2 linked regions of the Homo sapiens genome follow. The protein of the gene in region 1 purifies or fractionates together with the protein of each later gene. This does not show direct contact. Each region holds a gene or a part of one and is shown in the gene's direction. Other genes may lie near its edges.

Region 1 (15,647 bases):
ACATCAAGGACCTACCTAAATATTTTCCACTTTTTTCTTGCTGTCATGCTTAGTACACTGGTGATAGCTCCCTCTTATGATCACAAAAGAGCTGCACAATGTCAGGTTTTACATGCTAATACAAAGAAGGGTATTCTAGAAAAAAACACCTTTCCTAGAAGTATCTTAGCAGGCTTCTTATCAGGTGCTGGCGGCTGGAGTTTGGTCATCCAGCCATGCCTTAGCTGCAAGAGAGTGAGACAGCAAGTGTCTGGCATTTTCAGCATCAAAAACGAGGGGAAGTGGTGTTGGGGAAAGAGTGTCTGCAGGTGGGGGTGTGTGCTATTGACTTGGGAAGTAATCAAACCTATTAAGTTCAGCACTTTTTGGAGTTCTGTTGCTGGTTCTTTGAGGTAAGCATTGTTTGAAGGTTCTTATTTAGATTGAACGTGGAGGAGATGTGATAGTGGACTATGTAGTATCGTTATTAATACCTGTTTATCTTTTTCTCTCTTTTTTTTTCTTTGAGATGGAGTCTCACTCTGTTTCCAGGCTAGAGTGCAGTGGCGCAACCTTGGCTCGCTTCAACCTTTGCCTCCCGGGTTCAAGCGATTCTCCTGCCTCAGCCTCCCCGGTAGCTGGGACTACAGGCACCCGCCACCATGCCCAGCTAACTTTTGTATTTTTAGTAGAGATGGGGTTTCACCATTTTGGCCAGGATGGTCTCCATCTCTTGATCTTGTGATCCGCCCACCTCAGCCTTCCAAAGTGCTGGGATTACAGGTGTGAGCCACCACGCCCGGCCTGTTTATCTTTTTCTAAGTAGTATCACCATTTAGTAGACAGGAGACATTTGCCAAATTAACCAGTGTTGGATATATTTGTTTTTATTTGTGAGTGAAAATACTAAAACAGATCTAGGATTGATAGTGATAATAGAAGTGCCATGTGTTTATATAGGTTACCGGGCATTTTTATGTGTGTTATGAAGTTTGAATCCTACCAACCACCTTGTAAGTAGAGGAGACAGCTTTTATTAACACTGTTTTACAAATGAGAAAACTGAGACCAACAGAGTGAATGACTAGTCTAAGGTCCAGAGTCAGGACCAGAAACAAAGTCTTTTTTGTTCATTCTCTTTATTTACACTCTCATTGAGGATCTTATTTGGCTCCTTCTGATAGGAGAAGCTTTAGATAACCTTAATTATTTTTATTTTTATTTTATTTTTTTTTTTGAGATGAAGTTTCACTCTTGTTGCCCAGGTTGGAGTGCAATGGTGTGATCTCGGCTCACCGTAACCTCCGCCCCCTGGGTTCAAGAAGTTCTCCTGCCTCAGCCTCCCAAGTAGCTGGGATCACAGGCATGTGCCACCACACCCAGCTAATTTTGTAGTTTTAGTAGAGATGGGGTTTCTCCATGTTGGTCAGGCTGGTCTCGAACTGTCGACCTCAGGTGATCTGCCTGCTTCGGCCTCCCAAAGTGTTGGGATTACAGGCGTGAGCCACCGTGCCCAGCCACCTTAATTAATTACAATATATAGCTTGCCTCAGGTAAGAAAAAAAAAATCTCACTTTTTCAACATTTCATAAGCAGCATGGACTGTACTAAGAGCTGAAGGAGCTTACAGCGCCTAGGATATGGATGAGGATGGTCACCTGCTAGAGATGGCAGCACATACCTGCCTGGTAGGGTGAGAAGTTTCAGCTGATGATGTTTGAGCATGAATCTTGAAAGACAGAGGGTGTTCTGCAAGCAGAGAGGAGGCAGGAGCAAAGACAAGGGCGTGGGGTCGAGGCGGTGGGTGGGGAGGCTAATGCAGGAGAGAGACAGGGGAGGGGCAGGCCAACAGGCCAGGCAGATTTTGGAGAGTGGTGCTTGCCAAGTCTGATCTCTATCCTGGCAGCATTTGGACTTTTGCAGGGTCCAGTAGAGTCACAAGGTTGTATTTACCTTTTAGGGAGATGACTTTGGCAGCTGTGTGGACTGGGAGCAGGAACTCAGGGATGAATGCAGTAGCCCACTATGATGTGGAATGAGGACATGCACTGTGGCGTGGGATGAAGAGGGACCGGGGAGACTTGTCTAGGAGGCACCAGCTGTAGGTCACGTGAGTCTTGGTTTCTGACCTAGCTGATGGTAGTGCCACTTGTTGAGATGGGGACTGAGCAAAGAGGAGTGAATGTGGTAAGCACAATTTATTTCAGACATATGTTTGAGGTGCGTTTGGAACATCCAGGTGGGGATGTGTAAAGGCAGATGGATAGAATAGCTGAGATTAGTTGTCTATTGCTGCATGACAGCATTATCACTCAGTGGCTGAAACAGTACAGATTCGGTATTTCAATGTCTGTGGGTCAAGAGTCAGGCCAGACTGGGAAAGACTCCACTTCGGAGCTCACCTGGTTGTTGGCAGCACTCGTGTTCCTGCCACGAGACCCTCCCTTGTGTCCTCACAGCATGGCAGCTGCTTCTGCAAGGCCTGAAAGCAGGAGAGTCTTCTCATGAGGCAGGCGTCACAGGCTTGTGTGTTGTAGTCACACGGGTGTTGTCCCACCACCTTGCCATGTTCCGTCCCCTGGGTAGAAAACAAGCCACGGGCCCCACTCACACTCATGGGGAGGAGCCTCCACAAGGGCGGGACCACCAGGAGGTGCGGGTCATGGGGGCACTTAGAATCTCTCTGCCACAGTACGGGTGTTCCTCCCACTTTACGGAGAACTTGCTGAAGGTCGTTACAGCCTGGATTCAAACACGTTCTGGCTGCAGCATGTGTGCTCTTAGCTCCACCTGTCCTATTTCTGGCCTTTGGTAGAAGGCCAGAATCTATCCCCTGAATTGCAGGGGATAGATTTAGGAATTATTGGTTTATAGGTACTGAAACCATGGGTGTAGAAACCATGCATATTCTGGCCGGGCGCAGTGGCTCACGCCTGAATCCCAGCACTTTGGGAGGCCGAGGTGGGCAGATCACGAGGTCAGAAGATCGAGACCATCCTGGCTAACATGGTGAAACCCTGTCTCTACTAAAAAATACAAAAAAAACAAAAAACATTGGCCGGGCGTGGTGGCAGGCCCCTGTAGTCCCAGCTACTCCGGAGGCTGAGGCAGGAGAATGGCATGAACCTGGGAGGCGGAGCTTGCAGTGAGCCGAGATCACACCACTGCACTCCAGCCTGGGCGACAGAGCCAGACTCTGTCTCAAAAAAAAAAAAAAAGCATATTCTGATTGTGTAGGCCCCAGGAGGGGGCTGAGATTCTGGATTTCCCAGAAGCTCCCAGGCTGCTGCAGACCACACAGTAGAAGCAAGGATGTGGATGAGATTGCTTAGGGTGATTGGATGGGTGAGAAAGATCAAGGAGAGAACCTTGAGGTGTGTACCAGCTTGGTAGAGATTTTAGGAAGAATGTTGGGATGAAAAGAAGGTCAAGTGAAGAATGCTGTAGAAAGGTGGGATGGGGAGATGTCTCCACCCAGTCTCCTACATGCAGGGGGTTAGGTGCTGCCGTTCTGTCCAGGATATTCAATCTTAGAAGAACCTAGTAGAAAACTCTGATCTACCACTGCCTTCATTATCCTCTTATTCTGTATTTATAGATAAAGAAATAGAATTGCAAGGATGAAATAGCCTTTGCATAGTTTCCTTTTATTATCACTTAACTCAATTCCTGCTGGGCGCAGTGGCTCACACCTGTAATCCTAGCACTTTGGGAGGCAGAGGCGGGTGGATCACCTGAGGTCAGGAGTTCAAGACCAGCCTGACCAACATGGTGAAACCCTGTCTCTACTAAAAATACAAAATTAGCCAGGCGTAGTGGTGCACGCTTGTAATCCCAGCTACTCAGGAGGCTGAAGCACGAGAATCACTTGAACTCAGGAGGCGGAGGTTTCAGTGAGCCAAGATTGCGCCATTGCACTCCAGCACAAGAGTGAAACTGTCTCAAAAAAACCTCAATTCCTGTTACCAGCTTTACTTTTTTATTTACATTCAAATACTTAGGCAATGTGTTACTCTTTTCCTAAGAAAGATGTTAGTGGCTAATAAATCAAGCCCTTTTTTATTTTTTATTTTTGCAGTTGAGTCTTACTGTGTTGCCCAGGCTGGAGTGCAGTGGCGTAATCTCAGCTCACTGCAACCTCCGCCTCCTGGGCTCAAGCCATCCTCCCACCTCAGCCTCCTGAGTAGCTGGGACAATGGGTGTGCACCACCATGCCCAGCTATTTCTGTATTTTTTGTAAAGATGGGGTCTTGCTGTGTTGCGCAGGCTGGTCTTGAACTACTGGGTTCAAGCAATTCTCCCACCTCAGCCTCTCAAAATGCTGGGATTACAGGTGTGAGCCACTGTGGCCAGCCAAGACCTTATTGTAATTAAATTTTTATTAAAGCGTTTCGAGCTAAATGTACATTATTAAAGGAGGAAACGTGGGAGGTTGTATTAATTTCCTAGGGCTGCCATAACAAATTACCACAAATCAGGTGGCTTAACACAGAAATGTATTCACTCACAGTTCTGGAGGTCGGAAGTCTGAAATCAAGGTGTTGGGGCTGTGCTTCCTCTAGAATCCTTCCTGGTCTAGTCCAGCTCCTGCTGGCTCCGGGAGTTCTTTGGCTTGTGGCAGCATAACTCCAATCTCTGCCTCTGTGTTCACATGGCTGCCTCCTCTCTGTCTCTGCGTTTCTTCTCTTCTTTTTAAAGAATACTTACTGCACGTTGGATTTAGGACCCACCCTAAATCTCGGATGTCATTCTGAGGTCCTTAATTACATTTTCAAAGACGCTATTTTTGAATAAGGTCACATTCACAGGGTCTGGGGGTCAGGACTTGGACATATTCTTTTGGGGGCTGCTGTTGAGCCCACTACAGAGGTGAGCACTACATGATTGTGAGCAGTGTGAAAAAAAGGTGAGATGCAGTGATGTGTGGATTTTTGCACATTTTATTTCTAAAATGTTAATGTCAATTGTTTTTCCATTAGGAAATATGCAAAAGCTGAAACTCTTATGACAGTCACTGATCCTGTTCATGATATTGCATTCGCTCCAAATTTGGGAAGATCTTTCCATATTCTAGCAATAGCGACCAAAGATGTGAGAATTTTTACATTAAAGCCTGTGAGGTGAGTTTTAGAAGCATTTATGAATTTGAAAATACTCTTGCCTTCTGATTACCTTTGTTTGTGGAGGAGAGAGTAGAGGTAACTATGATTTGGTTTATATTTCTGCTCTGGAAGTTTTACTTAAAAATGTAAACTTTGAAATGTTTTTTAAAAATGGTCTTTTACAGTTACTTTTTTTTCTTTCTTTTTTTTTTTATTGATCATTCTTGGGTGTTTCTCCCAGAGGGGGATTTGGCAGGGTCATAGGACAATAGTGGAGGGAAGGTCAGCAGATAAACAAGTGAACAAAGGTCTCTGGTTTTCCTAGGCAGAGGACCCTGCGGCCTTCTGCAGTGTTTGTGTCCCTGGGTACTTGAGATTAGGGAGTGGCGATGACTCTTAACGAGCATGCTGCCTTCAAGCATCTGTTTAACAAAGCACATCTTGCACCACCCTTAATCCATTCAACCCTGAGTGGACACAGCACATGTTTCAGAGAGCACAGGGTTGGGGGTAAGGTCACAGATCAACAGGATCCCAAGGCAGAAGAATTTTTCTTAGTATAGAACAAAATGAAAAGTCTCCCATGTCTACTTCTTTCTACACAGACACGGCAACCATCCGATTTCTCAATCTTTTCCCCACCTTTCCCCGCTTTCTATTCCACAAAACCACCATTGTCATCATGGCCTGTTCTCAATGAGCTGTTGAGTACACCTCCCAGACGGGGTGGTGGCTGGGCAGAGGGGCTCCTCACTTCCCAGTAGGGGCGGCCGGGCAGAGGCGCCCCTCACCTCCCGGACGGGGTGGCTGGCTGGGCGGGGGGCTGACCCCCCCACCTCCCTCCCGGACGGGGCGGCTGGCCGGGCGGGGGGCTGACCCCCCCACCTCCCTCCCGGACGGGGCGGCTGTCCGGGCAGAGGGGCTCCTCACTTCCCAGTAGGGGCGGCCGGGCAGAGGCACCCCTCACCTCCCGAATGGGGCGGCTGGCCGGGCGGGGGGCTGACCCCCCCACCTCCTTCGCGGACGGGGCGGCTGGCCGGGCAGAGGGGCTCCTCACTTCCCAGTAGGGGCGGCCGGGCAGAGGTGCCCCTCACCTCCCGGACGGGGCGGCTGGCCGGGCGCGGGGCTGACCCCCCCACCTCCCTCCCGGACGGGCGGCTGACCCCCCCACCTCCCTCCTGGACGGGGCGGCTGGCCGGGCGGGGGGCTGACCCCCCCCCACCTCCCTCCCGGACAGGGCGGCTGTCCGGGCAGAGGGGCTCCTCACTTCCCAGTAGGGGCGGCCGGGCAGAGGCACCCCTCACCTCCCGGATGGGGCGGCTGGCCGGGCGGGGGGCTGACCCCCCCACCTCCCTCCCGGACGGGGCGGCTGGCCCCCCCACCTCCCTCCCGGTCGGGGCGGCTGGCCGGGCAGAGGGGCTCCTCACTTCCCAGTAGGGGCGGCCGGGCAGAGGCGCCCCTCACCTCCCGGACAGGGCGGCTGGCAGGGCGGGGGGCTGACCCCCCCACCTCCCTCCCGGACGGGGCGGCTGGCCGGGCGGGGGGCTGACCCCCCAACCTCCCTCCCGGACGGGGCGGCTGGCCGGGCGGGGGGCTGATCCCCCAACCTCCCTCCCGGACGGGGCGGCTGGCCGGGCGGGGGGCTGACCCCCCCACCTCCCTCCCGGACGGGGCGGCTGGCCGGGCGGGGGGCTGACCCCCCCACCTCCCTCCCGGACGGGGCAGCTGGCCGGGCAGAGGGGCTCCTCTCTTCCCAGTAGGGGCGGCCGGGCAGAGGCGCCCCTCACCTCCCAGACAGGGTGGCTGGCAGGGCGGGGGGCTGACACCCCCCACTTCCCTCCCGGACGGGGCGGCTGGCCGGGCAGAGGGGCTCCTCACTTCCCAGTAGGGGCGGCCGGGCAGAGGCGCCCCTCACCTCCCGGACGGGGCGGCTGGCCGGGCGGGGGGCTGACCCCCCCACTTCCCTTCCGGACGGGGCGGCTGGCCGGGCGGGGGGCTGACCCCCCCCACCTCCCTTCCGGACGGGGCGGCTGGCCGGGCGGGGGGCTGACCCCCACCTCCCTCCCGGACGGGGTGGCTGCCGGGCGGAGATGCTCCTCACTTCCCAGACGGGGTGGCTGCCGGGCGGAGGGGCTCCTCACTTCTCAGACGGTGTGGCTGCCGGGCGGAGGGGCTTCTCACTTCTCAGACGGGGCGGTTGCCAGGCAGAGGGTCTCCTCACTTCTCAGACAGGGCGGCCGGGCAGAGATGCTCCCCACATCTCAGATGATGGGCGGCCGGGCAGAGACGCTCCTCACTTCCTAGATGGGATGGCGGCCGGGCAGAGACGCTCCTCACTTTCCAGACTGGGCAGCCAGGCAGAGAGGCTCCTCACATCCCAGACGATGGGTGGCCAGGCAGAGACGCTCCTCACTTCCCAGACGGGGTGGCGGCCGGGCAGAGGCTGCAATCTCGGCACTTTGGGGGGCCAAGGCAGGCAGCTGGGAGGTGGAGGTTGTAGCGAGCCGAGATCACGCCACTGCACTCCAGCCTGGGCACCATTGAGCACTGAGTGAATGCAACTCCGTCTGCCATCCCGGCACCTCGGGAGGCCGAGGCTGGCGGATCACTCGCGGTTAGGAGCTGGAGACCAGCCCGGCCAACACCTACAGTTACTTTTAAATTAATGTCATTTTTGAAGAATGGATTATTTAATGAACATTTTATATATAAATATATGTCTTTTTGGAAAGGGGAATTGAGTCAAGAGCAGATTTATATTCTCTTAACTGTGCTTTATTTAGGCTGAAACTAACAATTCTCCAAATATAACTGATAATCTATAAATATTTAATGACAAGTGGCAGTCTATTTAGGGAAAACTAAATTAGTATTGAGACAGTCTTGTGAATAACATATTTAACTTTAATTTTGAATTGTGAATTTCAGTTCTTTTCTTTCCATTCTTTCATTCTTTCCTACTTGCTGCCCTGCCCATTTTTTTTTTTTTTTTTTTTTTTTTTTGAGGCAAGGTCTCACTCCGTTGCCCAGGCTGGAGGGCAGTGGCTTGATCTTGGCTCACTGCAACCTCCACCTCCCAGGTTCAAGCAATTCTCATGCCTCAGCCTCCTGAGTAGCTGGGACTACAGGCGCCCGCCACCATGCCTGGCTAATTTTTTATTTTGTATTTTTAGTAGGGATGGGGTTTCGCCATGTTGGCCAGGCTGGTCTTGAACTCCTGGCCTCAAGTGATCTGTCCACCTTGGCCTCCCAAAGTGCTGCGATTACAGGTGTGAGCAACTGCACCTGGCCTTGCCCTGCCTTTTTAAATTAATTATTGTCATCTATTTTATTCTTCTGCCTTGTGTGGGAGAATAAAATCATCCTGTTTTGTTGTTTCTTTCTTCCATGAAACAGTCACTGAGTATCATTTATGTGCTGGGATCACTCCAGGTCTTGGCGAGTTAAATGAAAATGACATTGGCCCAGCTCAAGGGCCAAGGTGTGGGGTTTGGGCAGATGTGCACATTATTATAAAGTGATGTGGTGGCGAGACCACTTGTATTAATTTAGAATTTTACGTGTGTATATATATATGTGTGTGTATATATATATGTTTTAAAACTTTGTTTGGAATGCCTCAGAAAATGTTTTTTATTAACAGGAAAGAACTGACTTCCTCTGGTGGGCCAACAAAGTTTGAAATCCATATAGTGGCTCAGTTCGATAATCATAATTCTCAGGTCTGGCGAGTGAGTTGGAATATAACAGGAACGGTGCTAGCATCTTCAGGAGATGATGGGTGTGTAAGATTGTGGAAAGGTAAGAGTTCAGTGAAGGGGTAATTGTTGGTTTATATTTCTGCTCTGCAATTTTTACTTAAAATGTAAACTCTGAAATATTTTTTGAAAATGGTCTTTTACAGTTACTTTTAATGTCATATTAATTTATGTTATTTTGAACATCAGTTTACCTAGTTCATAGAAGTTAATGACTGAATTGTTTTTTAAGTTATGTGGAACAGAGCAGTTTTCAAAACTAAAGTAATTACAACAGAATATGCAATATCTCCAATAAAAAGATACCAGTTGTCATATATGTACCTTACATGACTGCTCTACAAACTCAGGCTAGGACTGTAGTGGCTCCTTTTTTATCAAATAAATTGCTTTAGACAATCCATCCTTAATAGGAGAAAATCCAGTATCTTCCCTGCTTCTTCTCTGCAGCTCCCATAAGTTAAGAGCCTTGGGGGCCCTGATTGTAAGTTTCTTCTAAGTGCCAGGCTGAGTGAGAAGGTCTGGTCAGTTGACACTGACTGTGGTCTCTGTAGCTTGGTTCTGCACTTCTCCTTGGATGATTATCCATTAGGCAGAGATGTCTGTGATTTGTGCACCACCATAGAATGGTGTCCCATACTTAGCATTCAGAATTATAGCTATCTTTGTTTATTTGCCATTTAGCAGTTATTGTTTCCCAAAGTGCAGTTTGGGTAAGCTTGAGGGCCTCCCATGTTCAATTTTGGGCTTTGGTAAAACCAGCCCAGACCTTCCTTTCCTCAGTGTAATTTGATTTTAGGGGCTTTGCTGTCCTTTTCTGCCTTTAGGCTTTATTCAGGACCACCTTGCCATGCTCCCCAGCAGGGTGCCTAACTTGATTTTCTTGGGCTCATTGTCTTCAGAGACCAATTTTTCATTCAAACTAATAAGGCCATTTTGGATAAGCCACTGAAGCTCCAAAGGTTTTGTTACCTACATCCATTTCAGAAGACATGATAGGTACCCTTATAACTTATACTTGCATAATTAAGAAGACAACTTCATTACCTTACATACATATGTAAGTGAAATTCATTATAATGAAGACTTTAATATTATAATGAAGATTTTAATATTAACTTCATAATGTGGTAGCTCAGAGAATTGTCTTTGCTAGTATCTGTAAGATGGGTGGTGAAAGCTTTATATTTTTAAAATTAGTGATACTTTGAAAACTTCTAAAAAGTTGTTAAAACTGAGATAATATGTCTTTCATTTAAAAAGTGTCTTTAATGTTTATCCTGAAAGAAATGTAGCTCATAGCCTCTGTCTCGTTTCTTTAATTGTAGTTTAAGGACATGGGTACAGATTTGTGCCCTTAGGCATTGGTATTAATCATGTTAATGTATTTGATTATTTTCCTTTCAGCTAATTATATGGACAATTGGAAGTGTACTGGTATTTTGAAAGGTAATGGGAGCCCAGTCAATGGGAGTTCTCAGCAGGGAACCTCAAATCCTTCCCTAGGTTCAACTATTCCAAGTCTTCAGAATTCATTAAATGGATCTTCTGCTGGCAGGTAGGCTGCTTCATGGGAAAACTGGAAATCATCTTTGTTTTAAATCATTCTGGTAGCCATACTTAAGGTGGATTATTTCATGGATTATAAGATGGAGTGGAAATGTTCACATGTGCTTGTATTAGCATTTAAGAATTCATTTTGTTAGCTATGTATTTGGCTTACTTGGTCATAATATTTGCAGGTAGGTTATGAAGTCATTACATTATATTCTGAAGCTTTAGTGGTCTATTGGTAGAAATGTTTACAGGTTTAAGATTCAACTTTGCTTCCGCAACAGTGAGAGGAAGGTTATCTGGTTTAATGGTGAGAGTTTTAGTCCAAATGAACATTAGTGTTTTTTAGTGCTTGTAGTGTGGTCTTTGCATTAGGTCAAACTGAAATTTTAAATAAAATACATTTCTTAAGGCTTTCTAGAAGAGGGTACATTAAGTTATTTGGCTTTTGTGTTTAAAACTTTAATAGAAATAAGAGGAAATAATAAAACACGAGATTGATTTTTAGAATATTTAGCATATGTTACATTCTTGTATATCATAATAAGGAATATTTGATGTCATCTAGAGTCTGTTTCCATGTTCAAATTTTAAATATGTGAATTTGTAAGATAAAATTATTTTAATATGCCTTTGTGAATAATTTGGAATAGAATTCAGGAAACGTCAAAACACAGCCTAATGAATTGTCCTGTGGTTATATCCTCTTGTTATCCTATATAAAAGAAGAAAATTGTATTTAAAATTTCAACTATTTTTATATTGTTATGTTTTCATAAAGAAGTTCTGCTTTTGATTTTGAGGTTTTAAGTACATGCATCAAAACAATTTCAGGTTACCGTGGAAGATACCAGATTATAAAGATTATTTCATGAAACAAATAATATTAGAGTTGATTTTTTAAAGTCTGGTTTTTGGTCACTGCCTGTACTGCATATTTTCTTTTGTAAATAGCTTCTATTTTTTGATCTGTATTCTTATTGTGCCAATAACCATCTGTGTTAGATCTGTGATGCATTTTCCCTTTTCCATTTGTATTATGTCCTTTAACAGAAAGCACAGCTGAGTACAAGCTAACTGGAGTAACTTTGCTGTTTTGCTGCTTGTTGCATGCACACAGGAATGGAAAGCGAGCTCCTTTTCCCCTTCCCCAGCGCCGTTTGACCTCTCCCAAGATACACCAGCAGCCTGCTTACTACTAAACGCAATCCAAAAGGCCTTTAAAAATACAGTGTATATTTTTTGTACTAGTCAGTTTATTGACACTATTTGAAACTTTTGAAATATAAACGGAGAGGCTTTCTGTTGAGACATTGTCACCAAAACAATTTTTTGAAATGTTCCTGAAACTAATTTGGGTTTAAAGATTAAAAGGGTTGTTACCATTCTTATCTGAGTAGTTGGGAGGAGGGGAATACCACTTTAGTTCATTTGGAAAATATAGACATATTTCTTTTGCTTTCTTAAAACAGCTTAAAATGATGAACTTTTATAATTTTAATTTGAAGATTGAATAAATATTTTTTATAAAGATTGTTTTGAGTGCTGATTTGTTTACTTTTTGTAGATTTGCTTTATCCATGATATTCAGTACAACTCTGTCATTTCTTTGTAATATTTAAAAAATATTAGTAAAGGAGTGAATTAATAAAGTAGTAATAGTAAAATGAAAGGAACTTGACTGTACAGTTTGTAGCCAGGTTAAGCATTTGGTATTGTTTCATTTACAATTTGGGACTAAGATGGAAACACTTTTTTTATAAGTTTTTAATTCATAGTCACTAAAGAGATAAATGTTTCTTATATACATTTGTGTATTTTTATGGTGTTATTTATTCCATGGCTTAGCTTCCTTCAAATCAAAATTTGGACACACACTATTAAGAGAAGCCATTAAAATTTTACTAAAATTGTGCATGTAAATTAATTGTCAGCATTCCATGTCTCAAGATTTTCTTAATTTAGTTCGCTGTTTAAATTAATTCATGTCCTGTAAAGTTCTGACCTTGATAACAAAGCTATAAATATTTAAGTTTGCTAATATGCGTAAGTATTATCGGTAAGTTACAAGATGGAAGAAGAATAACAGTAGGGCACAGTCATTCTGTGAATCCTTTTACTTATCAAAATTTGGTAGCTATTCTAAGGCTTTTGCAGAAAAATAAGTGTTCAATGTTTGTAGTTCTTCAAAAGCATGTTGCAGTAGCCAGCCATACTATGTGTATTCCCAGTATCATGTACGCACTAAAAAAAATGTGTGCTTGCTGCTGCTGTGAGTGAACCATTGCTTAAGATAAAAAACTTAACTAGATCTGTAAATGTACAGAATAGCATCAGATGTTTCTGAGAGATTAGAAAATGTTTTGAATTTATAAAATTAATGTTTTTCTTTGTAACATTTATATATATTTTTTAACATTTTAAGTTTAACAGATTGTATTCCTTTCAAGTTTCTATACTTGCTTAAGCAATCTTGATTTGAGTAAGGGTCTTGATTTGTGCTATTATGTTCTGTTAGTTTTGGCATGAATATACTAAAGCTTTTTTTTTTTTTTCTAGCATGTGTTTTCTCCTCTTTGGTTCTCTTTGTATTTACTACTTTTCTCTTTTTCTTGTGTTTTTTTTTTCCTGTTTTTGTTTTGTTTGGTGTTTTGTTCCTGTCTTCATTGTTTCAGGTATTTCTTTACCCCTCTGGATTCCCCACGGGCTGGATCGAGATGGTCCAGTTATGCCCAGCTCCTTCCTCCTCCTCCTCCTCCTCTGGTAGAGCACTCTTGCGATGCTGACACTGCCAACCTCCAGTATCCTCACCCTCGCAGACGATATCTCTCTCGGCCTCTTAATCCCTTACCTGAGAATGAAGGGATTTAAAACACTGATTTAACATTGAAAGGCCTTATTCAAGTGCTTGTAAATGCTTTCATTTCTGGCTGCTTTTTGTTTTTCATTTTCTTTCAGAAGATTTTTCTAACTTAGGGTCTGTCTTGCATGTATTACAACCAGAATACAGTGTTTGGAACCTAAATCTGTTTGTGCGTCTGCATCAAAGGAACATTTGCTTCACTGGGTGATAACCTTTGATGAAATGAGATATGTCCAAGTAACGTTAACTGTGAAGTTACACACAGTAGCTGACTTCAAAGTGCCTGTTCTGTAAATTTTATTTTAAACTGTTACCATAGTCTTAAGTTGTTTATGCTTTATCAGACTGGCTAATGTGAAAGCATAATATTATGAAGTTTATTCTGCCTTATGAGACCTTAAAAAATGGATTTCATTTTACAGGCTAATGTTGTAACTGACTAGTATGTAAAATAAATCATTCCTGTGTATAAAGCAGCAAAACCTAATGTGGACTTTTTGGTCTTTTTTTTTTTTTTTTTTTTTTAAAGGAAATTGCCTTTCACTACTTGGAATTACTGTTTAAAGCTTTTGTAATTATTATCCAAGTAGGTTATGTAATAAAATATATTTAAAAATATACGAATCTCTTGCCTTATAAAAACAGAATGTATTTTATTTAAGATAATTGCCAAGGCTTACTCTTCTTTCACTATCTCACAAAAAACCCAAACAAAAATTAGGAGATGTGAGCAAATATTACATTTATTTAAAAGGTAGAAAGTCAGTATGTAGACTACTAACATTTAGAATGGACAGATGTTGACTTTCAGTCTAATTAGTCAACATTAGAATATTTTCTAGAATATTTTAAAATGAGAATGTACTTGATTATAATTGTGGTAAAATGATTAAAACTAGTAATATGCTTGTTGGTTCAGTTTTGTCAGGAATTGTCAAGGGTTTAACCTCTTATCAGGGCTAGAGAGAGAGGTGTTTTGAACAGTATTTCATGTAACAGATTACATGAAATATCAGGTAATCACATAGGTGACATAGTTATTATAACTATTCTAATTTTCAAAGACGCCTTTCCTTGAATAGTGTCATAGCTCTAGTACTTCTTAATATGCAAAGGATTAAGAGCTGATAGAAAGATTCTGTTCATTTTATTTTATTTTTTATTTTTTAAGACAGTGTCTCACCCTGTTGCCCAGGCTAGAGTGTAGTGGCATGATCATGGCTCACTGCAGCCTTGAACTTCCGGGCTCAAGCGATCCCCCCACCTCAGTCTCTTGAGTAGCTGGGACTGCTGGTGCACGCCACCATGCCCTGGCTATTTTTTTAAAATTTTTTTTTAGTGAGGGGTCTCACTTTTTGCCCAGGCTGGTCTCAAACTCCTAGGCTCAATCCATCATCCCACCTTGGCCTCCCAAAGTGCTGGGATTACAGGCATGAGTCACCTCACCTAGCCTATTCATTTTAGTTTAAGGAACATTTGAGTTTTATTGTCTAATAATCAAAGTGTTTTGTCTCTAAAGTTAGCATTTCAATGTAAATATCTTTTTCAAATAATTCTCAAAGGTCTTCCTCTGGTTAAATGACTTGCTAGGCTTGTAGCCTTATGGAGGATCAAACAAGAAGTCTTAATGCTGAATCTAACCCAGAATTAAGAAGCCATGTCTTTGAGCTTTCAGACATAGAGGTACCTTGGGTAAGAATGGAATAATGAAATTGAGACCATTCTCCAGTTTAATTTAGTGAATCCTGAGCATCTACCATGTGCAAGATACTGTGCCAAACACTGGGGTATGTAGAAAAATAGGTAGTCTGCACACAAACTTACACTCGTGGGAGAAGGCATTTTTAGAATTTACAAAAGGTAATGGGTTCAGCTTTGTAATAATGGTAGAAATTGTATAGTAGGCATAAAAGAGACAAGTTATTTGAGCTGGCAGAATTTGGAAGGGATGTCTGATTTCAATAGGTAAAAGAGGGCCGGGGTGTGTTTACGGAATAGGATATAAGTAACAGTCTGATGAAAGAGTAGGGTTCATTTAGGGAACTACTGGGACATTAACCTGAAATCATACCTTGTGGTTACATTGTAGAAGGTTTTGAGTATTGGCTGAGGCATACCACTTTAAGCAGTTGGTAAAAGGGGAGCTGAGAGATGTCTGAACTTAAAACTGGATAGGCCTCACTTCTAATTCCCTGGGAGGCACCCTGGTCATGGGGCCTCTGCAGGCTCTACTCAGTGTCTAAAGAGATTTGGAAATCACAGTGGGAGTTCTGTTCCTCCTTTCCAGTTGGCAAGTGAGGTGAGATACTGAGGTATAAGATAATAGCTAATGTTTGTTGAGTATTTCCATGGGCCATTATTTTTCTAGATACCTTACAGAAGTAGCTTTAA
Region 2 (15,647 bases), on another chromosome or scaffold:
TTTATTTCTAAAAGAAAATTGGTTGCATAGGTAGACAGTTGGCACTTACCTGCCCCCCAATCCCAGTTTTTTTTTTTGTTTTTTTTTTTTGGAAACAGGGTCTCCCTTACTTTGTCACCCAGACTGGAATGCAGTGGCACGATCTCAGCTAACTGCAACCTCCACCTCCTGGGTTCAAGTGATACTCCCACCTCAGCCTCCTGAGTAGCTGAGATTACAGGTGTGCACCACCATGCCCAGCTAATTTTTGTATTTTTAGTAGAGATGTAGTTTTACCATGTTGGCCAGGCTGGTCTTGAACTCCTGACCTCAGGTGGTCCACCCGCTTTGATCTCCCAAAGTGCTGGGATTTCAGGTGTAAGCCACCACACCCAGCCTACTTACCCCCAAATTAAATGATAATTTTGGCATAATCAGTATATTTGACTAATAGAAATGATCCATTCCCCTAAGAGCAGCAGTGATCAAATGTCAATATGTAGAAGTGGACAAGACATGTCTAGCTGCCTGTCCCAGGTGACTGCCCCTCTTACTCTTACTTCCACCTCAGAAACTCGAGGGGAACTCTGGGGTCCCCAGATACCAGGGAACTGTCTCAAACATGTTTCTCTCCCTAATTATCCTACTTCTTAGCAAGTTCACTAAGCTCCATTAGAGATTTAGGAAGAAAACATGAGAGCTCATCTCCTTTCTTTGACTGTTTTTGTTGGCACTGTCAAGCTTAAATTGTTACAAATGATTAAACTAAAAACGTATTTTGCATTTTGAATAAATACAGTATGAATTGTATCAAACCTCCAAAATTTACTCTTAAATTTTTAAAACTCCTGAGTAACGTTATAAACAACTGTATTGTAAGGTTGATATTTTTATTTTGTATAGACTTTTTTTTTTTTTCCCTTTTCTTTTTTGAGACCGAGTCTCGCTCTGTCGCCAGGCTGGAATGCAGTGGCGCAATCTCGGCTCACTGCAACTTCCACCTCCCCGGGTTCAAGCAATTCTCTTGCCTCAGCCTCCTGAGTAGCTGGGACTACAGGCATGCGCCACCACGCTCAGCTAATTTTTGTATTTTTAGTAGAGATCGGGTTTCACCATGTTTGCCAGGATGGTCTCGATCTCTTGACCTCGTGATCTGCCCACCTCGACCTCCCAAAGTGCTCGGATTACAGGTGTGAGCCACCGTGCCTAGCCTTAGCTTTTTATTTTAATAGCAGTTAGCCACTGATATTAAAATAGTATAGTTGTAAAACCACTATGTTCTAAGTTTTATCACTGTGTTTTAACAGAAGCACCTGGGTTCAGCAATACGTCACTGATTATCCTTCACCAGCTAGAAGACAAGATGAAAGCTCACTCTTTTCTTATGGACTTTATTCATCAAGTAAGAGCGCAGGGTGCTGGGCACAGGGCTCTGCCTTTGGCAGTCTCTCCAACACAGTGGGAAGTCTCTTCTCTCTATTTTGAGGTGTTTCATTGGGTGGGGCATGACTGGTGTTTTCCATTGTCTCTGCTGATTTAAAAGTCCGTAATTCCAGGGCTGTGTACAAGCCTGTTAATCCAGGTATAAGAAGCAGGACTTCATTCAGATTTCCCGTGTGCGTTTGTGTAAGAACTTAAGTTTTCATGAGTCGATTTTGTATTTGACAGATTTTTATGTATGACTTTTAATTTTGAGGTGCCATTAGAATCAAATCCTCATTGAAAGTATTCCTTTTCTTTTTTTGGGTAAAGGTTATCCTCACATATATTGTGCCTAAATTAGAAAATGTTTTGCTACTGGACAGAATTGTTACATAAATTCACTCATTCTTGTCTCGTCAATAAAAGTGGCTTGCAGACATATTACGTAGCCAAATGAATGAATTTCAACCTGCTTGGGGTTTTGTTTGTTTGTTTTATTTATTTATTTATTTATTTATTGAGACAGGGCACTCTGTTGCCCAGTCTGGAGTGTAGTGGCACAGTCTTGGCTCACTGCAGCCTTGACCTCCTAGGCTCAAGCAGTCCTCTCACAGCCTCCTGGGTAGCTGGGACTACAGGTTTGTGCCACCATGCCCATATAATTTTTTTTCAGTTTTTGTAGAGACAGAATCTTACTACGTTGCCCAGGCTGGTCTCGAACTCCTGGGCTCAAGAAATCACTGCACTTCAGCCTCCCAAGGTGCTGAGGTTACAGGCATGAGCTACCAGGCCCAGTCTCTTCCCTGATTGTTTTTCAAACTCAGTAGTGCCTACTCACTACCACACCCGGCTAATTTTTTATGTTAAGGAGATTCTAGTGAGTGCTGTCCAATCCATTGCTTTCTGTGATCATGGGAATGTTCTCCTAGTGTGATGTCTAGTGGGACAGCTGCTGGCCACATGTGACCTGAACAGTTGAAATGTGACTAGCAACTGAAGAACTGAATTTTAACTTACTTAAATAGCCACTGTGGACAGTGGCTACCTTATTGGACAGTGCAGCACTAGATAATTTCAGAAATGACTTGATTGTTCCTAATCCCACATTCTTTTTCAATTTTGTGCATGGTTTATCTCCTGTCTACTCTTTTATTTTCTTGGCAAGAAAACTCCAATCATTCATTGAGTCTCTCTTTTTTTGTTATTGTTATTTTAGGTGGGATATGGATTAATGAGGAAAAAACATATTTTCTCCCGATATGGTCGTTTAATTAGCCAAGTGTATCAGTTAACTATTACTGCCATATAAACCACCCCAAAACACAGTGGCTTAAAACAATTCTGTGGGTTAATCAGGCAGTTCTTCTGTTGGTTTCACCCGGAATCACTCGACCTGCATTTAGGATGCACTGAGCTGGAGGGTCTGCAAGCCTCTTCCCGCTTTCTGGCAGTTGGTTCCAACTGTCAACAGAGGCTATGTGGTTCTCCTCCATTTAGTCGCTCATCCTGCTCTGGGCTGGACTGGCTTCCTGTGGTCTTAACAGATGAACATAGAAGCTGTAGGCTTCTTAAGGGCTCATCTCAGATGTCACATAATGTTACTTCCAGTAAAGTGACATTGGTCAAAGCAAGTCACAAGGACAGCTGGGATGAAAAATTAAAGAATTTATTATACCTCTTTTTTTGTATGTGTGTGACAGGGTTTCACTCCCATCGCCCAGGCTGGAGTACAGTGGCGCAATCTCAGCTCACTGCAACCTTTGCCTCCTGGGCTCAAGTGATTCTCCTGCCCCAGCCTCCCCAGTAGCTGGGACTACAGGCGCATGGTGCTGAACCTGGCTAATTTTGTGTATTTTTTGTGGAGAACGGGTTTTGCCATATTGCCCAGGCTAGTTTCGAACTCTTAAGCTCAAGTGATCGCCTGCCTCTGCCTCCCAAAGTGCTGCGATTACAGGTGTGAGCCACTGTGCCCAGTGTGATTGTACCTCTCGATGGGAAGAGTGGCAAAGTCATTCTCATTGGAAGAGGATATGCATACTGGGCCGGCAGGACCTTGCCCTGACCTGATTCGCCACACTAAAAGCATGGATTTATCAGAGGCCCGAAAGCCATGAGAGCATGAGCACTCTTGTCTCAGCCTTCCTGGGTTCCAGAGAACCCTCACGAAGTTCCACGGCTGCTGGTAGCAGTATCTGTCCTAAGGCAATGTCTAGCTAGTTCTGAAAACCCCATTCCAGCCATGCCTTTTATGTTTCTATTTCCTTTAATATTTAGAGCTCATTTAACTAATGAGGAAGAATTTATGTTGATAATTAGGAAAAAGGTATAACTAGATACTAAGGAAAGTTTTTTTTGTGTGTTTTTTGTTTGGATACAGGGTCTCTGTTGCCCAAGGTGGAGTGCAGTGGCACGATCGCAGCTCACTGCAGGCTTGACCTCCTGGGCTCAAGCAATCTTCTCACCACTGCCTCCCCAATAGATGGGACCACAGGCACTCACTACCACGCCCGGCTAATTTTTTTATTTGCTGTAGAGACAGGGTCTCATAATGTTGCCCAGGCTGGTCTCAAATTCCTGGCCTCAAGTGATCCTCTTGCCTAGGCTTCCCAAAGTGCTGGGATTACAAGCCTGAGCCACTGCACCCAGCCCTAGGGAATATTTCTGAATACAGAGAAATATTCCTTTTCTCCTTGAGCCAAACTTGGCATCTGCAGGGCCATATCCTCATTCTGAAGGGGGTGGAAGTAACACCAACACTTCAGAACAGTACCCTTGCCTCTAGTTTTCTGATGTTGAGGGAAGCCTCTGTGTTCATACATTGTGTTTCCATACCTTACAGAAGCAGGGAGGTAATCTGATCATATTCACTGTGTGACTAGAATGATTGTACATATATATATATATATATATGTATATTTAGTTTTTTAATTTTTTTGAGACAGGGTCTCACTCTGTCACCCAGGCTGGAGTGCAGTGGCATGATCATAGCTCACTGTAGCTACAGCCTGTCCGGGCTCAGGTGATCTTCCCATCTCAGCCTCCCAAGTAGCTGGGACTACAGGCATGTGCCACCAAATCAGCTACTTTTTGTATTTTTTGTACACATTACCCAGGTGATCGCCTGCTTCTGCCTCCCAAAGTGCTGGGATTACAGGTGTGAGCCACTGTGCCTGGCCTAGAATAGTTTTAATCTAGAGCCATTGCTTCACTGTCAGTGCTGCAATCAAAGCAAAGTAAAGCAGGCAATTGGGATGACCTTGCATGAAAACTCCACCTAGATTTTTTTTTTTTTTTTTTTTGAGACGGAGTCTCGCTCTGTCGCCCAGGCTGGAGTGCAGTGGCGCAATCTCTGCTCACTGCAAGCTCCGCTTCCCTGGTTCATGCCATTCTCCTGCCTCAGCCTCCCAAGTAGCTGGGACTACAGGCGCCTGCCACCACGCCCGGCTAATTTTTTGTATTTTTAGTAGAGACGGGGTTTCACTGTTTCAGCCAGGATGGTCTCGATCTCCTGAACTCGTGATCCGCCCGCCTCGGCCTCCCAAAGTGCTGGGATTACAGGCATGAGCCATCACGCCTGGCCGATTACACCTAAAATATTTTTGAGGGAACCAGGAAATAAATTCAAGTCAGGAAAGACCATGTAACTCTTATTTTAAAATAATAAGGTGAACAGGTTAAATACATTAGGATTCAGTGAATTATTAACCAGTCATTAAAAATAAGAATATCTAAATGTGTTATAAAAAATAAGATACTATCAAAACAAGGTACAGAACAATATATACAGTGTGACCCCTTTTGTGTTATAAAAAGATATCTCCTAGCATGTAAATACTACAAAAGCATATAGAAAATGAAGGATAAGAAAATCAGGTCACTTATTAACGAAAGAGAATTATACTTAAAATGTGAAAAAGTATTCATTATTTATGCCTGTCTTTTGGCTCTTTCCTAGTTCAGGTTATTGTAATGTCATATGCAATGAGAAAGCTTAGGAAAACCCCTAGAAGATCATAACACAGGACAGATGGGCACCAAGCAACTCAGTAGAAGATGCAAAGGGTTAGAGACACCCCCACCCTCCCAGCAGCATTAGGGGTATGGAAATCAGTCCTTGAAGGTGGAGGTTGCTGAGTTTCTGATTTCTGAAAGTCTGGAACCTAGGGGAGTTAATTGATACAGCTAGTAAAGGGCAGTGTGAAGCCAGGTGCAGTGGTTCACACCTGTAATTCCAGTGCTTTGAGAGGCCGAGTCAGTAGGCTCGCTTGTGGCCAGGAGATCTTGTGGCCAAGATCAGCCTGGGCAACATAGTGAGACCCCATCTCTACAAAAATAAAGTGTAAAAATTATCCTGTTGTGGTGGCGTGCTGCTTGGGAGGCTGAGGTGGAAGATGGCTTGAGCTGAGGGTTTAAGGTTAGGGTGACCTGTGATTGTGATTGTACCACTGCACTCCAGCCTGGGCGACAGAGCAAAACCCTGTCTCAAAAAAGACGAAAAGAGCAGTGTGACTGTTTTGATAACCATAAACAATAATTTGGGAAACATGATATGCAGAGACAGTAGTAGTGGACAGAAGCCCTGGAGTGACCCTGTTCTTAGAACAGGAATATCTACATTTCCTTGTGGGTGTTAATGGCCTGGCTGAAGTGTCTGTGTGTTAGAAACAGTTAAAACAAGAGACAGCTGGAGGGACTTGCTGGGGGAAAGCTGGGGCCAGTGACTGCCCAGGGTGCTTCTGGGGAAAATACAGCTATGGTATTTTGCATGTTACCATAATTGCTTTCTGAGAATATGTGTTTGCCTTTTTGCAAGGTTGGCTTATTTGGACGTCTAGGCAGTTTTCCAGTTAGAGGGACACCGATGGCCACTCGACTGTTGCTCTGTGAGCATGCCGAAAAGCTGTCAGCCGCCATTGTTCTCAAGAACCACCACTCCCGGCTTTCTGACCTTGTCAACACAGCCATATTGATTGCTTTGAACAAGAGGGAGTATGAAATCCCATCCAACCTGACTCCTGCAGATGTCTTTTTCAGGGAGGTAAGATGAGTCCTCTTTCATGTGGCTTTGTAGAACTGTGCCATTTAGTGATCATGCCCTAGGCAGGAAAGACGGTGAGGACGAGTTAAATCACAAAAGATCTCACTGAAATTTTAAATTGGACTCCAGATTTTCTGGCTAGAGTGTCACTCAGAAGTCTCATTGATCAGTTACCTGTAAAGAAGAGTTTGCAAAGTTGACTAAGAAGTGCTCCCTGTTTACTTTTTTCCCCCAATAACTGTCTCCAAGTACCTATTTGCTTTGCATGCTGATCTTCTTTTTTTTTTTTTTTGAGATGGAGTCTCACTCTGTTGCCCGGGTTCCAGTGATTCTCCTACCTCAGCCTCCCGAGTAGCTGGGATTACAGGTGCTAGCCACCACCCCGGCTAATTTTCATATTTTTAGTAGAGATGGGGTTTGATGTCGAACTCCTGACCTCAGGTGATCCACTCGCCTCAGCCTCCCAAAGTGCTGGGATTACAGGCGTGAGCTACTGCATCCATCCTGATCTTCTCCTTTGTCTCTCTCGATCTACTCTTTTTTCTGGGGGCAGGGGGCACTAAGTCTTGCTCTGTTGCCAGGCTGGAGTGCAACAGTGCAATGTCGGCTCACTGCAACCTCTGCCTCCTGGCTTCAAGCAATTCTCCTGCCTCAGCCTCCCAAGTAGCTGGGACTACAGGCATGTGCCACCATGCCCAGCTAATTTTTGTATTTTTAGTAGAGACCTGGTTTCACCCTTGTTGGCCAGGCAGATCTACTCTTGACTCTGCCACAGCAAGGTGGCCTTCCTGAATGGGCTCCCTTGCCCTCCGGCTTCTGCCAGGTCAGATGAATGTGAGGCCCTGCCATAAGGCCAGAAGTTGGAGTAGTTATTCTGCCAGCTTTCTTCCTTGCCTGTGCGCACTTTACATTGGCTGTGCCCCTCTGTCAGGGACTGTGCCTCCTGTCCAACTGCTTTCTCTGTGTTTCCAGTAGCTGCCCCCTCCTTGTGCCTCTTCAGGCCTGAGGTTGATAATGCCTCATCCTAGGGTGCTGCCCCATCCCTTTTTGGACCCCTTAATCTTGCCCACACCTTTGCAAACAGTACCTTCACTGAACTCCTCAGCTACCTCCTAGGATCCTGTTGCTACACCTTGCTTGTAGAATCAGATTTATTTTCAGAGAAAAAGTAAAGTCTGCTACAAACTTCAAAGACAGAAATGGTTAAGATGCTGGGCAGCCAGTGGCAGCTGGACATTGTGGAAATAGTGACGCAGTCCTCGTGCTTTTGTGAAGCTTCACAGCCTGATGAGGCAGCAAGGCAGACTTCGCTGTCTCCCTTTAAAGGTGTGACATTAGAACTTAGACCTGTTGTCTTAACTGAGACTGCAGAACTATCTGGTTTTAGAAACAGGGCCAGCTCTTCCCTGAGCTCTGTGAAATTTGGAATTCCTTATGCATTTGAGGAACTTCAAACTCTATTTGGTGTCTCAAATTTTGCTTCCTTCCTCCTATAGCCTAGCTGTATTCTAACATGTAGCACACTGTGCCGACAAGTCTCTTTTTCTTAATGTTTGATGTACTGTAACCTAAGTTTGATGTACTATAACCTAAATTCAGTCTTCCTGTTGATTCCATAAATGTGTTTAGTGTGAATTCTTTGCTTTTATGCATTTGGGTTAGTTCCTGGGGAATGGAAGGAAAAGCACTTTGTTATGTTTTGTTTTTAATCTAGACAGTATGCCAGAAATCTGAAAGAAAAACAAATCACCTCAAGTTTCATGATCTAACAAATCAAGTTGTTGTCATTTTTGTGTCCTTTTTGGTCTTTATTCATATATAATTTTATATGATAAGACAATTTTTTAAAATTAATTACAGACTACTTGTAAGAACTGAGCAAGAGCCTGGTTCATTATTCTGCATTTGGATCAAAGGGCAAAGTATAAGTGTCAATTTAGTGTATGTACATGTTTCAGTTAGCTGAATTATTGGAGAAGGGTCTGGAAATTATCAGTTGGATACATATAGAATAATATTTTAGGAATATGATACAGCAAAACTAAAAATGTGATTGGCTCCTCAAAAGAATGTTCCATATGAAAAATGGTAATGTTTAGGACTGTTCCTGTCACTATTTATCTTCATTTCTCATGATGTTCGTTGGTCTTTAGCTTCTCTGGGGTGTAGTTATAAAGGTTTTCTCCCGTGTCATAATGATCATGAAAAGAGAATACAATAGCTATATGCATATAGTAGTTTTTCTTTCTTTTTACCTGTCCTTCCACTTGGGGGTGACAAGTTACCTGTCTAAGGAGTATTTGTGTTTTGGGACGAGCTGGTTAACCAAAATCAATCTCTGATTGGTGGGCCATATAGAACGATATTTTGACTTGGCAGCCCTGATAGAAAGTAAAACAATACAGAGCTGCCTGAGGGTGCGCTCTCCACTTTGACTCTGTCTCCAGTTTGGGAAGGCCTTGTACCTCCCAGGGCTCTGGAAAAGCAGAGCTCACTGCTTAAGGAACAGACTATGTTGACACGGCATATGAGCAATATTTGAAATCACTGAATATATACATGATAAGAGAATTTAACAAGTGTTTTGGCATTTTATGTGCTTTTATGTTATTTTCTGTCTTTTATATTATATATGCTTTCCTTTTTTTTTTTTTTTGAGACTGAGTCTTGCTCTGTCGCCAGGCTGGAGTGCAGTGACACAATCTCTGCTCACCGCAGCCTCGGCCTCCTTGGTTCAAGCAATTCTCCTGCCTCAGCCTCCCAAGTAGCCGGGACTCCAGGTGCACGCCACGACGCCCAGCTAATTTTTGTATTTTTAGTGGAGACAGGGTTTCACCATGTTTTCCAGGATGGTCTTGATCTCTTGACCTTGTGATCCACCCACCTCCAAAGTGCTGGGATTGCAGGCATGAGCCACCGCACCCGGCCATTATATAGGCTTTCATTGTGTTTTTCATGTTAACAATGTAAAATATTCTTACACTTAAGCTTATAAATTAAATGTGCTAAAGATTTCTTGCCTGGGCTGTTAGGATGCCTTTGGCTAACATCAGAAATGCAAAAGGAAGAACAAGGTTTGCAAAAGGGAGGGATTTTGTTTGGGTCATGTTTTATCTGTGCCTATATAACTTGTTCCTTCAGCCAGTTTGTGAGGTCCTTGAGGGCAGCTAATCTGATTTTTCTTTCCTCTTATCTCTGAGTGTCCATTGCTATGCAAACTCTAAATAATGGGGGGAAAGCTTAAGTGCAGACTTGAACTTGAAACAGGAGTTTCAGTGCCTGATGGTATTTTTGCACTGTTATCTCCATGTATTAATTAATGACAAAGGAAGAGTTAGAAGTTATGTATTTAGTTCATTCTCTTATGTTGCTTACTTCTGTTCTACAAATGTTTCTGTTATGTCTGAAGAAGGGGAATTCCTCAAAGAAAGAAATTAGCAAGTTCACTTTTTGAGGTCATTATTTTAGTCTATTAGTTCATTAGTTTGGGGTATTACATTGTAAAGTGATGTCATCTGTAACCTAGTGCTATTTAAAGATGCACTGAGCAGAGTAGCTATAATAAAAAATATCATCGCTTAAAAATCTCAGTAACAATCCAGAATTTGCCTGTTTATAAGACTTATTTGGGCACTCTGACTTTTAAAAGTTAGGAGATGTGACTTTTCTTGATTTTTGAATTTATTTTTACCATCAACTGCCAATAAATTTTCCTCCATCTATAGGTCTGAGGATATGGCTTAATGAGTAAAACTCACTGGGTAGTTGTTACCCATCACCATAATTTTTGTTGTAAGTAGTTTACTTCTGTGTATTCTCTCAGGTATCCCAAGTAGATACCATCTGTGAGTGCTTACTGGAGCATGAGGAGCAAGTCTTGAGGGATGCACCTATGGATTCCATTGAATGGGCTGAAGTGGTGATCAATGTGAACAATATTCTCAAGGTACAAAAATATAGTAAAGGCTTCAGCAAATCAAAGCCCAGGGCATGGATAGACAAGGAACTGGTTTCCATGTTCCTACTCTGTATTGCCGATAATGTATAAGGTTGTAGACATTTGTTAATCCCAAAAAAGTTAGAAAAATGTCATTTTATTATTAATCAGCTAATGAGTATTTTGAATGTTAGCCTGGTGCCTATTAATAAATTTCTATAATCTTGAGTTTCTATTTGGTAGAATAATAAACCTTTCATTTGGGAAGATGTGTTTGTATCTTTGCAATTTTTTAGTTGGTTTTTTTTCTGAGAGAAGGTCTCACTGTCACCCAAGCTGGAGTGCAGTGGCACCATCATAGCTCACTGTAACCTTGAACTCTGGGCTCACGACTTCCTCCTGCCTCAACCTCCAAGAGTGTTGGGATTACAGAACTGAGACACCATGCCTGATTGCAAACGTATTGTTAATGTAACTGTCTAAATATTTCTCATTTCTATTTTTTTAATTACTCAAAACCTTGCTACTTTTACTATTGACTAAAACGTTCCATTTAATTTTAGCTAGTGGACTTGTAGTAATGATTTTCCTACTTTGCCAAATAATTTTCCTACTATTATTTGCCAAAACTGAAGTTAAATTATGGAGTAAAACAAATTTCAAAAGCAGAAAGAACCAAAAAGTAATCATGCAGATCTGTGCTGACTTTTTTCTCTCATTTTCTTTTCTTTTCTTTTTTTTTTTTTTTTTGTGAGACATGGTCTCACTCCATTGCCCAGGCTGGGTTTATAGTGGCTTGATTATAGCTCACTGCAGCCTCCACCTCCTGGGCTCAAGCAGTCCTCCTGCCTCAGTCTCCCAAGTAGCTGGGACGGTAGGTGCACGCCACGATGCCCAGGTAATTTTAAAAATTTTTTGTACAGATGGGGTCTCACTATGTTGTCAGGCTAGGAGCAATCCTCCTACCTCAGCCTCCCAAAGCACTGGGATTACAGGTGTGAGCCAACATTCCTGGCCCCTGAGTATTTTTTCTTACTAATTTACTTTGCTGTCTTAAATTATCTTCAGAAATACTGTGATCCATCACCTTTTGCATGTGATAACACATTAACTTTTTTTCCAGGATATGCTGCAGGCTGCTAGTCATTATCGCCAAAATAGAAACTCTTTGTATAGAAGAGAAGAATCACTAGAAAAAGAACCTGAATATGTTCCATGGACGGGTAATATACTGATTTATTAACAGTTGTTCAAAATATATTTCTAATGACCCATCATTTTTAGAAGTTGTGTTATTCCCCTAGCGTAGGTTTGTAAGTGAAATGAAAAAGTGCCGTCTCCAAAATGAGCAGCTCTTGTCAAAATCACTTTATTCGTCCCTTGCTCTTATTTATCGATCTCTCTATAATTTATGTATTCAACTGGTACTTATGCATTTACTAGGTTTTAGTTCAAATAGTTATTCATAGAAGCAGTCCTGGCCCCGGAGGTATGGACTATATTTTATGTTGATTTAATACAAGAAAGTAAGTGGAGTAGCATTAAAGGAATTTAGAAGGAAGAAGAGTCATGTTTACCTGGCTTTGCTGAGGAAATCTCCTTGGAGAAGATGGGATTCAAGCAGGGCATTGACAGGTATCACCTGAATCCCTGTTCAATGTAATTTTCCAGCAGTGATGAAGAGGCATAATTTTTATGCTATTAGTCTTTCCTTTAGCCATCACTAGATCCCTTACTTTAACCATATTATTTTGTGTAATTTCACAGCAACAAGTGGTCCTGGTGGCATCCGAACGGTAATAATACGCCAGCATGAGATTGTCCTGAAGGTGGCTTATCCACAGGCAGACAGCAACCTCCGAAACATCGTGACCGAGCAGCTGGTAGCCCTGATCGATTGCTTCCTGGATGGTTATGTTTCTCAGCTTAAGTCTGTGGATAAATCCAGTAATCGGGAAAGATATGACAATCTGGAGATGGAATACCTACAGAAAAGATCAGATCTCTTATCTCCTCTTCGTAAGTTCATGATACTTGGCAAGAGTTTTAAATTTGCTGAATGGATGAAAGGGTTGAATAGTTAATTCAGTATATTCAGTGTGGTAGTGTTAATCCAACTGTAATAAAGAACTTAAAGCAAATATGCACAGCTTTCTGTGCTCATTTATTCAACTTTTTTTCCAGTACTATCTAGGTATAAGTACCATAGATGATACTGAAGACAATTAATAAATACATAAACAAACAACATGTGGAGACTACCCTTAAAGAGCTTAGCATCACAGACCTTTACGTGAATAACTGGATTGCAAAGTAGAGCCTGGTGAGGGCTGCTTGAGGGGTACAGATAAGATATTATGGCTGTTTGGCAAAGGACACATTATACTCCAGGCTAGGACTGGGAAGAGTTTGCTTTACTCTTACATGAAGGAAGAGAATAGCGTTTTGGGGAGGCAGTGATGAAACAAGGGTCTGAATTTGCATCTTTTTTTTTTGTTGAGACAGAGCGTCACTCTCTCGCCCAGGCTGTAGTGCAGTGGTATAATCTCAGCTCACTGCAACCTCCATCTCCCGGGTTCAAACAATTCTCCTGCCTCAGCCTCCCAGGTAGCTGGGATTACAGGCGTGTGCCACCACAACTGGCTAATTTTGTATTTTTGGTAGGGATGGGGTTTCACCATATTGGCCTGGCGGGACTCGAACTCCTGACCTCAGGTGATCCACCCGCCTCAGCCTCCCAAAGTGCTGGGATTACAGGTGTGAGCCACCGCACCTGGCCTGAATTTGCATCTTTAAGAAATTGATGTGAATTGTGAAACTAAGTGCCAGTAAGTGGGAAGGTTTCCATTCCATTAATGATTGTTGGTTTATAATAGGAATAAAGATAAAATTTCAAGTAACATTTTTTATTACAGATTTTAAGTTTTGCTAACAGGATTTTTTCCCATCTTTTCTCATTCCCACAGTTTCACTAGGCCAGTACCTGTGGGCTGCTTCTCTAGCAGAGAAATACTGTGACTTTGATATATTGGTACAAATGTGTGAGCAGACTGACAACCAGAGCCGACTCCAGCGCTACATGACCCAGTTTGCTGATCAGGTGATGAGTGTTGGGTGTGTGGCCACTGAGTCCTTTAGTTGCCTTTTCTTGAAATGGCTTTGCCATTTCAAATCTGTAATCAGGGCTTTTGGAATATGATACGATCTTTTTGTAGTTAACTTTGATGAGAAGATACTAATTTGTATGTCGCGTTTCTTTGTAAATTTTGTCCAGTAGCGAGATCACAGTTCACGACAGCCTCAACCTCCTGGGTCCAATCACTTCTCCCACCTCACCCCCTCCCACACCTCCTGCTTTCCAGTAGATGGGACCACAGGAGCTCGCCACCATGCCTGGCTAATTTTGTTCATTTTTCAGTAGAGACAAAGTCTCGCTATGTTGTCCAGGCTGGTCTCAAACTCCTGGGCTCAAGCGATCCTCCTGCTTCAGCCTCCCAAAGTGCTGGGATAACAGGCATGAGCCATCGCCTGACCACACAATTCTTTATATATAAATATTACTGAAAGATTCTTTGACCTTTGGAAAATATAACTTTCATTTCTGTTTATATATTTTCTAGTTATTATAAAAGTACTTAGGTACATGAATATTGGTAAAGTTCTTAAAAATTGTATAGAAGATACTCGGGAGCATAGAAGACTACTTTAAGAGAGCTTAGCTTTACAAATACACCTAACATTCTCATTTTCCTTGAGGGATATTATGCTTCCTGTTTAAAAAACAAAGTTCCCAGCCAGCCTCAGTGGCTCATGCTGTAATCCCAGCACTTTGAGAGGCCAAGGCGGTAGGATCACTTGAGGCCAGGAGTTTGAGGCCAGCCTGGGCAACATAGACCCTGCCTTTACAAAAAAAATTTTTTTAAAAAACATGCCACCACACGCCCATGGCCACACTTATTCAGGAGGCTAAGGTGGCAGGATCGTTTGAGCCCAGGAGGTCAAGGCCAGTGAGCCAAGATTGTGCCACTACACCACAGCTAGGTGACAGAGGAAGACCTATCTTTAAAAAAAAAAAAAATTTCCATTGTGACACTATCTTAAGTGAATTCAAAGTTGTTGCTTGAAGCCAGTCTATTCAGTCAGTTGATTACTATGAAAAGCTTATTTTTTATTACTGTAAAAGTGATATTGTATAAAATTTAGAAAACCACTATAAACACAAAAGATAAAAATCACTCAAAATGCCACCACCCAGAGAGAACCTTTTAAGCATTTGGTTTATATTTTCAGTCTTTCCACTCTATGTATTATAAACAAACATGTTTTGTCAACTGCTTTTTTCACTTGATACATTGCAAACATTTGTTCATGTCATTAAATATTCTACAGCAGCATTTTTAATGGCATTATAGTATTTCATTGACTGGGTATGACTTACTTCATCAAAGATCAGTTGTTGGGCTGGGCAAGGTGGCTCACGCCTGTAATCCCAGCACTTTGGGAGGCCGAGGTGGGCAGATCACCTGAGGTCAGGAGTTCGAGACCAGCCTGGCCAACATGGCAAAACCCCGTCTCTTCTAAAAATACAAAAATTAGCCAGTCATGGTGGCGTGTGCCTGTAATTCCATCTGTTCTGGAGGTTGAGGCAGGAGAATCCCTTGAACCCAAAAGGAGGAGGTTGCAGTGAGCCAAGATCGTGCCACTGCACTCCAGGCTGGGCAACAGAACAAGAATCCGTCTCAAAAAAAAAAAAAAGGTCAGTAGTTGGACATGGCTTATTTAGTATATCAAAACATTGCTAAATAAATATTTTTTGCACTGATCATGATTTTAAAATTATTTTTATGGATTTTCTTTCTCTTTTCATGCATTTTTGCATTTTTTCTTATATTTAACATGTTTAAATGTTATTTTAAAGTCCTTTTGTGCTTACTCTGATCATCTTTGAGTCTGTTTATGTTGCCTGCTTTTATGTTGCTTGAATCATAGTTTTCTGCTTCCTATATCTGGTAATTTTTAAATTGTATTTTAGACATTGTATATTTTTAAAACTCCATAGTATGGAAATTGATGTTATTTGTCCCCTCGTGGATTTTCCTTTTTCTCTGTTAGGCAATTTAGAGGAGAGGAAGATGACTCAGTTCATTAGGAATAGAGGTGGCCCAGGACTCGGTCTCAGCTCTTGTAATATTCATTTCATTTCTGGTGTCAGAAGTCTTTCATGGCAGGATCCCTGCTTTAGGGAAAGTATCTCTTAAACACTGTGAGACT

Evidence for each region.
Region 2: the proteins of SEH1L (region 1) and NUP133 purify together in Homo sapiens (affinity purification with mass spectrometry; 4 studies listed by BioGRID and IntAct, with this or other methods). This does not show direct contact.

Annotation. Positions count from the first base shown.
Region 1 is NC_000018.10:12,973,794-12,989,440, forward strand, and holds the end of SEH1L (nucleoporin SEH1), read left to right. Parts: intron 1-1,939; exon of another isoform or gene 1,940-2,089; intron 2,090-4,958; coding exon 4,959-5,099; exon of another isoform or gene 5,100-5,100; intron 5,101-8,724; coding exon 8,725-8,882; intron 8,883-10,246; coding exon 10,247-10,397; intron 10,398-11,446; coding exon of another isoform or gene 11,447-11,459; exon of another isoform or gene 11,460-13,068; coding exon 13,069-13,264; 3' UTR 13,265-13,738; downstream 13,739-15,647. UniProt on the Homo sapiens protein: Component of the Nup107-160 subcomplex of the nuclear pore complex (NPC). The Nup107-160 subcomplex is required for the assembly of a functional NPC.
Region 2 is NC_000001.11:229,461,372-229,477,018, reverse strand, and holds part of NUP133 (nuclear pore complex protein Nup133), read left to right. Parts: intron 1-1,286; coding exon 1,287-1,381; intron 1,382-6,214; coding exon 6,215-6,439; intron 6,440-10,262; coding exon 10,263-10,385; intron 10,386-11,499; coding exon 11,500-11,599; intron 11,600-12,143; coding exon 12,144-12,395; intron 12,396-13,342; coding exon 13,343-13,476; intron 13,477-15,647. UniProt on the Homo sapiens protein: Involved in poly(A)+ RNA transport. Involved in nephrogenesis.